Linked DNA regions of Homo sapiens. The protein of the gene in region 1 purifies or fractionates together with the protein of each later gene. This does not show direct contact. Each region holds a gene or a part of one and is shown on either strand. Other genes may lie near its edges. The genes, in order: XKRX, SPRTN and UBXN7.

Region 1 (3,656 bases):
TTCTTCCTTTCCTTTTTCTCCTCCTCCCCCTCCTCCTCTTTCTTCCTATTCTTTGTCATCTTCATCATCCCCCTATTTCCAAAAGTATGGTAGGTGGGTTTACTTTACCTGGATACTATCCTGCTACTTAGAAAATCAGGTCATTTTAAAACTGATAGAACATCTGAAAGTAAGCCTTATAAAAATGTAAGACTCATAGCAAGAAAACTATACAACTTTACTGAAGAAAACTATACAATTTTACTGAGGTACATGTTAAAATATTTAATAAAATGGAGAGATTTATCATTTCACAATATGAAATCCAACAATCCTATAAAGATGTAAATTCTCCCAAAATAACCTAAGTAATTTGATGCAAATCTCAATCGGAATCTCAATGAAATGTTTTTTTCTTTTGCTGTTATTATTTTGCTTTGTTTTTTGTAGGATGAATTAAAAAATTATCTTGAAAATTAATCTACTTAAAAGATTGGGGAAAATTGTTCTACCAGATGAGAGATGTGATAGGCCTTTGTAAGAAAGGCACAAAATCTAAAAGCAATAAAGAATTTGAATACATAAAAATGTAATACTTCAGAATGCCAGAAGATACTACAAAGTGTATTGTGGATATTAAATATATCACACACATATTACACGTATGACATGTATATACATATTTAAAATGTGTGTATGTACAAGCAAAAAATTATACAAATATATGCATACATATTCACAGCAGAGAAAGGATTAATAACAAGAATAAGTAAATAGCTCCTAAAAATTAATATGAAAAAGACAACCCACTAGAAAAAGCGAGTAAAATATATAAACAAGCAATTCACAGAACACACAATGACCAAACACAAAAAGATGCTCAGCTTCATTCATAACCAAAGAAAGCGAATTATTTTAAAAGTCAATTATTTTAAAAGCCAATTATTTTATAATTATACAAATAAAGAATATTGAGTTTAAGATATGAAGAAACAGAAACAGGCACATTTGTATACTGTTGGTGAGAGTATAAATTCATATATCTTTTTGGAAGAGTTATTTGGCAATATCAATAAAATTTTAAACATACATATCCTTCCACCCAGCAATTCTACTGCTATAAATTTATCCTACAAAGTCTCATTCATGTACACAGGTATTTATAAAGATGTTTACTGTGGCATAATTTGCAATTAGGAAACAACTTTTTTGTGAAAAATTAAAATTTGTGAGGCTGACATAGGGCTCCTGCTGCCCCTCTTTCTTCCACAGTGTGAAGTCCTTACTCATGGCCTCCAAACATCTGCAGAAGTAAAGCATCATGGGAACTTAACTAAAGCTGTCCTGAGAAGGGAGGTTGTAATGAGGGGAAAAAATAACTAGGGGAGGTTGTGCTACCTTTTTTTTTCCTTTTTGAGACAATCAATAGAATCCTATCAATAGAAAATTAGGAGAATAAAAAGTCTAATTCATATAAAGGAAATGTATATTATATATTTATTATTGTTATACATGTATATATAAATAACTTGAGAAAAGACATACTGGCATACTGTACTTTTGAAAAATACTTTGTTGACAGAATGTTTCATACAGTCCATTTTGGGGCAAAAACATGTACAATATATATTGTATGTATGTTTATGTTTACATAGTAAAAATAAGTCCAGAAGGATATATACTGGATGATTAACAGAGGTTATCTTTGGGGAGTGAGATTACGTTTCCTATTTTATATCTATTCTGTATGGTTTTTAATTTTTACTATAACCATGTCTGACTTTTGTAATTAAAAAAAGATAAAGACCAAAACTAGTAATGCATGATCACAAAAAAAATTTTCAAACCATACAGAAGAATTTTAAAAAGTAAGACTGCTGACTTTTCATTCCCACTCCGCAGAGGTAGTTTCTTGCATAGTTTCCAGAAATTTTCTGTGCAAATACAATTACTTATATGTCATTTTGTGCATGTATTACTTTTGTTATTTATTTATTTATTTATGAGACGGGAGTCTCCCTCTGTCGCCCAGGCTGGGGTGCAGTGGTGCAGTCTCAGCTCACTGCAACCTCCACCTCCCAGGTTCAAGCAATTCTCCTGCTTCAGCCTCCCAAGTAGCTGGGATTACAGGCACCCACCACCACGCCTGGCTGAATTTTTTTTTGAGACAGAGTCTCGCTCTGTTGCCCAGGCTGGAGTGCAACGGTGAGATCTCGGCTCCCAGGTTCAAGTGATTCTCATGCATCAGCCTCCCAAGTAGCTGGGATTATAAGCATCCACCACCATACCCGGCTAATTTTTGTATTTTTAGTAGAGACAGAGTTTCGCCAGGCCAGGCTGGTCTCAACCTCCTGACCTCAGGTGATCCACCTGCCTCGGCTTCCCAAAGTGCTGGGATTACAGGTATCAGCCACCATGCCCATCCTTGATTTTTTTTGTGTTTTTAGTAGAGATGGGGTTTCAACATGTTGGCCAGGCTGGTTTTGAACTCCCAACTTCAAGTGATCCGCCTGTCTTGGCCTCCCAAAGTGTTAGGATTACAGGCGTGAGCCATCATGCCCAGCCGTAATGTACACCTATTTTTATTAGATGATTTAAAGGAAAAGCATCATCATTTCCAAAGAGTTTTCTCCTCAAACTACTATGTATGTGAAAAGCTTCAAGACCAACAGAACTTCAAGAACAATTCTGAGTGGGGAAAAAAGACAAAAGAGGGCAAATTTTCTCCTTACCTTATTTGAGACATGGGACTTTGCCAAACAGGGTTAGAATCTAATAGGAAATGGTCCAAACCTGTACCCACACCTATACCAGTGCCTGCCCAAGCAGATGAAGCAAATCTCAGGCTGTTAAAATTCATTAACAACAATTTATCTCAACTTTGAAAACACTGACTCACATTTCATCTTCTGCTAGAGGTCTTACTCATTTCAGGATCCCTCTTCTACAAGTGGGAAATTAGGTCAGTGATTGCTTTGTAACTTCCTCCAAAGATCACAGTGAAGGTCAGAACTTGGTCCAGGCCTGACTCTCATTAGTATTAACCCCACGCTTTTTTTTTTTTTTTTTTTTTTTTTTTGAGACGGAGTCTTGCTCTGTCACCCAGGCTGGAGTGCAGTGACGCGATCTCGGCTCACTGCAAGCTCCGCCTCCCAGGTTCACGCCATTCTCCTGCCTCAGCCTCCCGAGTAGCTAGGACTACAGGCGCCTGCCACCACGCCCGGCTAATTTTTTGTATTTTTAGTACAGACGGGTTTTCATCATGTTAGCCAGGATGGTCTCAATCTCCTGACCTTGTGATCCACCCGCCTTGGCCTCCCAAAGTGCTGGGATTACAGGCTTGAACCACCGTGCCCAGCCCACGCTCCTTTTCTTTCTCTCCACTGGCATTAGCAGAAATGATTAAATCATTGGTTCCCAAATGTGGCTGATCAAAATCAACTGGGTACCTTTTAGAAATACATATTAAGATTGATTCAAGTCTGGGGAGTGAATATAATTTCAAAAAGAAGCTCATCACATGATTCTGATGATCAGTACTATTTGGGAACCTCTTATTAAAGACTGCCATCCTTAAACAAACAAAACAACAGCATAATTTAAACATTTTGGGCAAGGGAAAATATCCTACTGACTGCTGGTATTACTAGCTTCTTCTGGGCCCAGAGAAGGTTTAT
Region 2 (3,656 bases), on another chromosome or scaffold:
AAGATTGCTGGGGTTTTTGCTCTAAAAAATATAAATAATTTTTTTAAGCAAAAATCAGAAAGATCTTCAAAGACATACCTTTTTCATGATCCTCCATAATTTTTTTAAAAAACAATTTCCATCAGAAGAACTAGACTGTCATTAATGAATTTTAGTCTTATAAAATTATGCTGAACAGAAAAATGAGAGAATCAAACATTTTAACTTGGTCATTCATATATCCCTCTAAAAATTATCAACTGTATCTCTTAAAAGGAACTTTATTTATTTATCTTATTATTTCTCAGAGATGGGGTCTCACTTTTTCACCCAGACTGGAGTGCAGTGGCATGATTATATTTCACTGCAGCCTCAAATTCCTGGCATCAAGGGATCCCTCTATCTCATCCTCCTGAGCAGCTGGGATTACAGGCGCATGTCACCACACCTGGCTAATTTTTTTTCAATTTTTTGTAGAGACAAGGTCTCACCATCTTACCCAGACAGGTCAACTCCTGGGCTCAAGCAATCCATCTATCTGATTACGTGCATGAGCCACTGTACCCAGCCAGAACTTTATTTTTCAAGTAAATGCCGCTCAACGAAGAAGACTCAAATTCAAGAAAGGTACTGCAAAAGTTTCTCAATGTTCTAAATTAGAGCAATGATAAAGATCTATTCTCATAAAGGAGAAACAAATTTAGGTTCCTGATTTTTGGTTCAATTTAATTAAACATTAAAAAACATCTTGAAAATGGTACTGAACTTTTTAAATATCTATCATTTTCCATATTTAGTCTTAATTCAAGGATCTATACACAACACAGTCCCAAAATACCTCTGTTTTCCATGACTGTTCTATCGGGTTAAAATGAACTACCTCTAGTCCTAAATATGCCCCCAGTTGTCTGAACTCACTTTTGTTCACATTATTCCCATGCTTTCTGCCAAGAGTAGCCTCCTGTCCTATCTCTGCTTGTCAAAAGTACAATTCGTCCTTTAATGCTCACCTCTCCATGTTTTAATCGCAGGAGTGATGAGTTGAATGGTAAAGGGGACAGAACAAGAGCCTTAGAGTCAGGGAAACTGGAACCTAAACCCACAATCACAGCATGAGACCTGGGACAGGCTCCAAGTGGCTCCTCATCCCTAAAATGGGATATCCTCATTTTGCATGGCTGTGGTAAAGACGACGTTTAGTCCAAAGTCTGACACACAATAGGTGCTCAATAGTGAGCAGCAGGAGTGGTGATGGTAGTAACAAAATGTACAGTTATAAAGCTTTTCTTGACCTCCTCAACCAGATAAAGTCTGTTCCTTTTCTGAACCCCCTTCTCTATGATTTAGGTAACTACAGTTGTGCCTCACTTGGCAGGGATATGTTCTGAAAAATCCATTGTTAGGCAATTTTGTCATTGTGCAAACATCTTAAGAGTGTACTTACACAAACCTAAATGGTATAGCCTATGTAATATATATATATATATACACACACCTAGGCTATAGAGTATATATACCTAGGCTATAGAGTATATATACCTAGGCTATAGGGTATATATACCTAGGCTATAGAGTATATATACCTAGGCTATAGAGTGTATATACCTAGGCTATAGAGTATATATACCTAGGCTATAGAGTATAGCCTGCCGCTCCTAGGCAACGAACCTGCACAGGATGTTACTGTACTGAATGCTGTAGGCAAGTGCAACATAATGGTAAGTATTTGTGCAACTAAATATAAAGAAGAAAAAAGGTACAATAAAAATATAGTCTTGGCCAGGTGTGGTGGCTCACGCCTGTAATCCCAGCACTTTGGGAGGCTGAGTCGGGCGGATCACGAGGTCAGGAGATTGAGACCATCCTGGCTAACATGATGAAACCCCGTCTCTAGTAAAAAAAATACAAAAAATTGGCCTGGCATGGTGGCGGGTGCCTGTAGTCCCAGCTATGTGGGAGGCTGACGCAGGAGAATGGCCTGAACCCGGGAGGCGGAGCTTGCAGTGAGTGGAGATGCGCCACTGTACTCCAGCCTGGGCAACAGAGCGAGACTCCATCTCAAAAAAAAAATAAATAAATATAGTCCTGGCCGGGCATGGTGGCTCATACCTGTAATCCCATTCACTTTGGGAGGCTGAGGCAGAAGGATCACCTGGGGTCAGGAGTTTGAGACCAGCCAACATGGTGAAACCCCGCCTCTACTAAAAATACAAAAATCAGCCAGGCGTGGTGGCGCACACCTTTAATCGCAGCTACTTGGGAGGCTGAGGTAGGAGGATCCCTTGAACCAGGGAGGCGGAGGCTGCAGTGAGCCGAGATCATATCATTGCACTCCAGCCTGGGCAACAAGAGCAAAACTCCATCTCAAAAAACAAAAAATAAAAATAAATAAATAAATAAAAATATGGTCTTATAATCTTATGGGACCACTGTTATATATGGGGCCTGTCATTGACGAAAATGTCATTTTGTAACTTTCTGCCAACAGGAAATGCTCACTTGATACTATTATACATTCCCCATTCTCTTCTCACCCACTACTTAAAAACATTTTTTTCTCATGTGTTTATGTAATCATTTACCCAATACATATTCATTAAGCAACTCTTCCAGTTAGGGCTCCTTCTAAGGCTGATTTGGTTAATCATGCTGTTCAACTTTTTAAAATGTGTATTATTTTTTTCCGCTTATTCATTGGGTTACTAAGAAGGTTGTGTTAACATTCTTCAAGTATGAGTCTGGGTGTCTTGGCTGACACCTGTAATCCCAGCACTTTGGGAGGCTGAGGCGGGAGGATTGCTTGGGCCTGGGAGGTTGAGGCTGTAGTGAGACAGGGTCTTGCTCTGTCACCCCAGGCTGTAGTGCTGTGGTGTGATCTCGGCTCACTGTAACCTCCACCTCCCGAGTTCATGCGATTCTTGTGCGTCAGCCTCCTGAGTAGCTGGTACTACAGGCTGTGTCACCACACGCAGCTAATTTTTGTATTTTTAGTAGAGACGGGGTTTCACCATGTTGGTCAGGCTGGTCTCAAACTCCTGGCCTCAAGTGATCCGCCTGTCTCAGCTTCCCAAAGTGCTGGGATTATGGGCGTGAGCCACCGCACCCAGCCTGATTGTATATTCTTTTTGCTTCTGCTAATTTATGCCTCATAAAATTTAAAGTTATGTTATTACTTTTGGAGAGATTATGTATTGTTGCTTAATAGATTATTTTATTATTATAAAATATCCCACTTTTCCTCTAGTAAAACTTCTTCCCTTGAAGTCTTTAGTCTGATACTAATACTGGTTGAACATCCCTAATTTGACAATCCAAAATCTGAAATGCTCCAAAATCTAAAACTTTTTGAGCACTTACAAGATGATTAAAGGTTAAGTTCTAAGGAAATGCTCACTAAAGCCATTTCAGATTTGGGACTTTTGGATTAGGGAAGCTCAACCAGTAAGTATAATGCAAATATTCCAAAGTAAAAAAAAAAAAAATCTGAAACACTTCTGGTCCCACTTTGGATAATGAGTACTCAACCTTATAGCCACAATAGTTTTCTGCTTTTAAGTGTTTGGATGATTACTTTTCCTCATCCTTTTAAACTTAAAATAAGTGTGTCTTTACTGTAAGCATGTCTCTTTTAATCTAGCATGCCATTCCATGTATTTAATGGAGTGTTTAGTCCACTT
Region 3 (3,656 bases), on another chromosome or scaffold:
CTGAGTAACATATTGAGACCCTGCCTCCACAAAAAATAAAAAATTAGCCAGGCATGATGGTGCACACCTGTAGTCCTAGCTACTCAGGAGGCTGAGGCAAGAAGATTGACTGAGCCCAGGAGTTCAAGGCTAGCAAGTTTTTTTTTTTTTTAAAGTTCTCTCAAGGCTGCAAAGACTACAGTGAGTTAATATCATGCCACTGCAGTCCAGCCTGGGCAACAGTGTGAGACCACATCTCAAAAAATACAATACAATACAATAAATACAATACAATACAATAAAAATGTTGCTAGGTGTGGTGCTCACACCCAGAATCCCAACATTTTGGGAGGCTGAGGCGGGAGGATTGCTTGAGGCCAGTTTGAGACCAGCCTAGACAACATACGGAGGCCTCCGTCTCTACAAAACTTTAACAGCTTAGCTGGCATGGTGATGCACATCTGTGGTCCCAGCTACTTAGGAGGCTGAGGTGGAAGGATCGCTTGAGCCCAAGAGGTGGAGGCTGTAGCGAGCCATGATCACACCACTGCACTGCAGCCTGAGAAATGGAACAAGATCCTGCCCAAAGAAAAAAACAGGACGGGCGCGTTAGCTCACGCCTGTAATCCCAGCACTTTGGGAGGCCGAGAAGGGCGGATCACTTGAAGTCAGCAGTTTGAAACCAGCCTGCCCAACAAGGCGAAACCCCATCTCTACTAAAACTACAAAAATTAGCCAGATGCAGTGGTGTACGTCTGTAATCCCAGCTACTTGGGAGGCCAAGGCAGGAGAATCGCTTGAACCCAGGAGGCGAAGGTTGCAGTGAGCCAAGATCACACCACTGCCCTCTAGCCCTAGCAACAGAACAAGACTCTGGCTCAAAAAAAGGAAAAAAAAAAAACCAACAAAACAAAACTATTTTTATCCCTACTGCTATCAAAGCCAAACAGCCATGAAAACCAATGTGAGATTGCTGTATCTTTGCAAGTTCAGTCTCTTATTTGCAACCAATCTTGATACCAATTATCAAACATGTCTACCTAGTAATAGTATATTCTAGAAATTAAGTATAGAAGTAAATTCTAGGAGGGCCAGAGAGCCAGGCCCTAAAGCTATATTAACCAATAAAAATGCTCAACTATACCATGACAGTTGTTTCAGCAAAAACAAAAAACACCACTTCCAGCCGGCTGTGGTGGCATGTACCTGTAGTCCTAGCTATTCGGGCAGTTGAGGTGAGAAGGCTGCTTCAGCCCAGGAGTTCTAGGACAGTCTGGGCAAAACAGCAAGATCCCACTCCAAAACAAAAAACAAAACACACAAAAAAACCAACCACTTTCACTGCTATTTAGACCTGGATATCAGAAGCCCTCCCAGAGCTGCCCCTCAGGAAGTAGACACCTTTACCACTAGGCTTGCCAGGTCAGTCCTCCTGCCCAACCTATTCACATTGCTTCCTTCTAAATCCAGATCCTGGGGCATCTGCCTGCACTCTAGCTGCAAGACAGACTGGCAGGAGTATGAGTATCATGATTTCACCAAGAAGATGGAACTCTCATGTGGGAAATTATCAAAATATAAGGAGGATATCTAAGATGCTATAGCCACAGTGATAGTTGTCCACTAGTTAGATTATCTTTACCATCTTAACATCGAACATTTTATATAAGATGCTTATGACCAATTACATTTATTTTCCCATCACCACCTCCTAATTATACTTACTGAACGGGCACATTTTTTGGGGGGACTGCTAGAAAGTCCATCCAGTTGTCCATGTTCACCCAGAAATCCCGTCACTTGGTCCAAGAAAGAAGATACATCTAACTGGTGCCATTCTACTAGCTTCTGACCTAAGGATTAAAAACCAAGATCTATAAATAAATATAATATCTAGAATCCTTCTGAACATTCTCCAGGATCTATAAATATAATACCTAGAATCCTTCTGAACACTCTCATTAAGTATCTCTTTCAGCATATGCATAGATTAAAAACCTGGATCTATAAAGGTAATATCTAGAATCTTTCTGAACATTCTTATTAAGTATCTCTTTCAGCATATGCATAGATTAAAAACCAGGATCTATAAAGGTAATATCTAGAATCTTTCTGAACATTCTCATTATCTCTTTCAGCATATGCATACATTAAAAACCAGGATCTGTAAATATAATATCTAGGATCTTTCTGAACATTCTCATTAAGTATCTCTTTCAGCACATGCATAAAGTGTACTGTAAAGACATATCCTCTCCACCAGCTTATGCTACATAGTGTCTTCATAACCTAGAAGTCACATCAATTATACTCACCTAACAGATTCCCACCCGTAATGATAGGGCAACTATCTTATCTGCTGCTATCACTTACTGCCATTTAGGAAGAAGAGATTCAGACAAAGCAATATCTATATAAAACACCATCAATTAATAAAACCAGCTCCACCCTCTGCTTCTCAGGTGGGATTACAACTAGTATCTGGGCAATCTTAATATTTTAATGATAAAAAAAACTTTTGTCTTGTTTTGTTTTTTTGAGATGGAGTCTCACTCTGTTGCCCAGGCTGGAGTGCAGTGGCGCGATCTCGGCTCACTGCAACCTCCACCTCCCGGGTTCAGGCCATTCTCCTGCCTCAGCCTCCCAAGCAGCTGGGACTACAGGTGCCCGCCACCATGCCCGGCTAATTTTTTTTGTATTTTTAGTAGAGATGGGGTTTCACCGTGTTAGCCAGGATGGTCTGGATCGCCTGACCTCATGATCCGCCCACCTCGGCCTCCCAAAGTGCTGGGATTACAGGCATGAGCCACCACGCCCAGCTGGTAAAAAAACTTTTAAAAAATCCCTTAAAAAAGGTAAGATGAACATATCAGTTATTCTTCAAAAGAACAGAACTGCACAAACATAAAATACTACCATCTCCCAATGTTGCCAGAAAAAGATGTCCTAAATACATACATCAATAGATGTTTAAATAATTATAAAGGGAAAAAAACGAAACCTTCACCTAAATTACTGCAATTCTGAAAACAGATCCAGTCAAATATTAAAGATCAATCATTTAGGTAACTGAAAGACAAGTAATAGGTTAAAAGCTGCGTGCTGATATAAATCTTACCTGTCCGTGGGTCCAATATGGAAACATAGGGGAAATCCCCTAACTTATAAAACTGTATGTATCTCTGACCTTCCTCACTGTCATGATAAACCTGTTAAATCATTGATATAAAAAAAAAAGTCAGCCTCTAAGAAAAGAACCAACTATAACCTTCTTATACACCAACATCAATTAGCTCTCCAAATATACCTCCGGCCTATGTATTAAGATCTCACTCCTACACTAAAAAGAAAATAAATCTGGTTTGAACTCCTTCAACTTCCCACTTCCAGCACTCTCTGGAAATTTACCATAAACATATTGACCCATTCCTCCTCCTTTCCCAGTTCAGATGAGGTATTATTCTTCCTGCTCAAGTTATCTGTCAACTATGTCATTCATAACTCTCAACCATATACATCTTAATAAATCACAATATATTAAGATTATGGGCCAGGCATGGTGGCTCACGCCTGTAATCCCAGCACTTTAGGAGGCCGAGGCGAGTGGATCACAAGGTCAGGAGATTGAGACCATCCTGGCCAACATGGTGAAACCCCGTCTCTACTAAAATACAAAA

Evidence for each region.
Region 2: the proteins of XKRX (region 1) and SPRTN purify together in Homo sapiens (affinity purification with mass spectrometry; 2 studies listed by BioGRID and IntAct, with this or other methods). This does not show direct contact.
Region 3: the proteins of XKRX (region 1) and UBXN7 purify together in Homo sapiens (affinity purification with mass spectrometry; one large-scale study listed by BioGRID and IntAct). This does not show direct contact.

The regions. Positions count from the first base shown.
Region 1 is NC_000023.11:100,918,794-100,922,449, forward strand, and holds part of XKRX (XK-related protein 2), read right to left. Parts: intron 1-3,656.
Region 2 is NC_000001.11:231,341,137-231,344,792, reverse strand, and holds part of SPRTN (DNA-dependent metalloprotease SPRTN), read right to left. Parts: intron 1-3,656. UniProt on the Homo sapiens protein: DNA-dependent metalloendopeptidase that mediates the proteolytic cleavage of covalent DNA-protein cross-links (DPCs) during DNA synthesis, thereby playing a key role in maintaining genomic integrity.
Region 3 is NC_000003.12:196,366,324-196,369,979, forward strand, and holds part of UBXN7 (UBX domain-containing protein 7), read right to left. Parts: intron 3,189-3,656; coding exon 3,098-3,188; intron 1,833-3,097; coding exon 1,705-1,832; intron 1-1,704. UniProt on the Homo sapiens protein: Ubiquitin-binding adapter that links a subset of NEDD8-associated cullin ring ligases (CRLs) to the segregase VCP/p97, to regulate turnover of their ubiquitination substrates.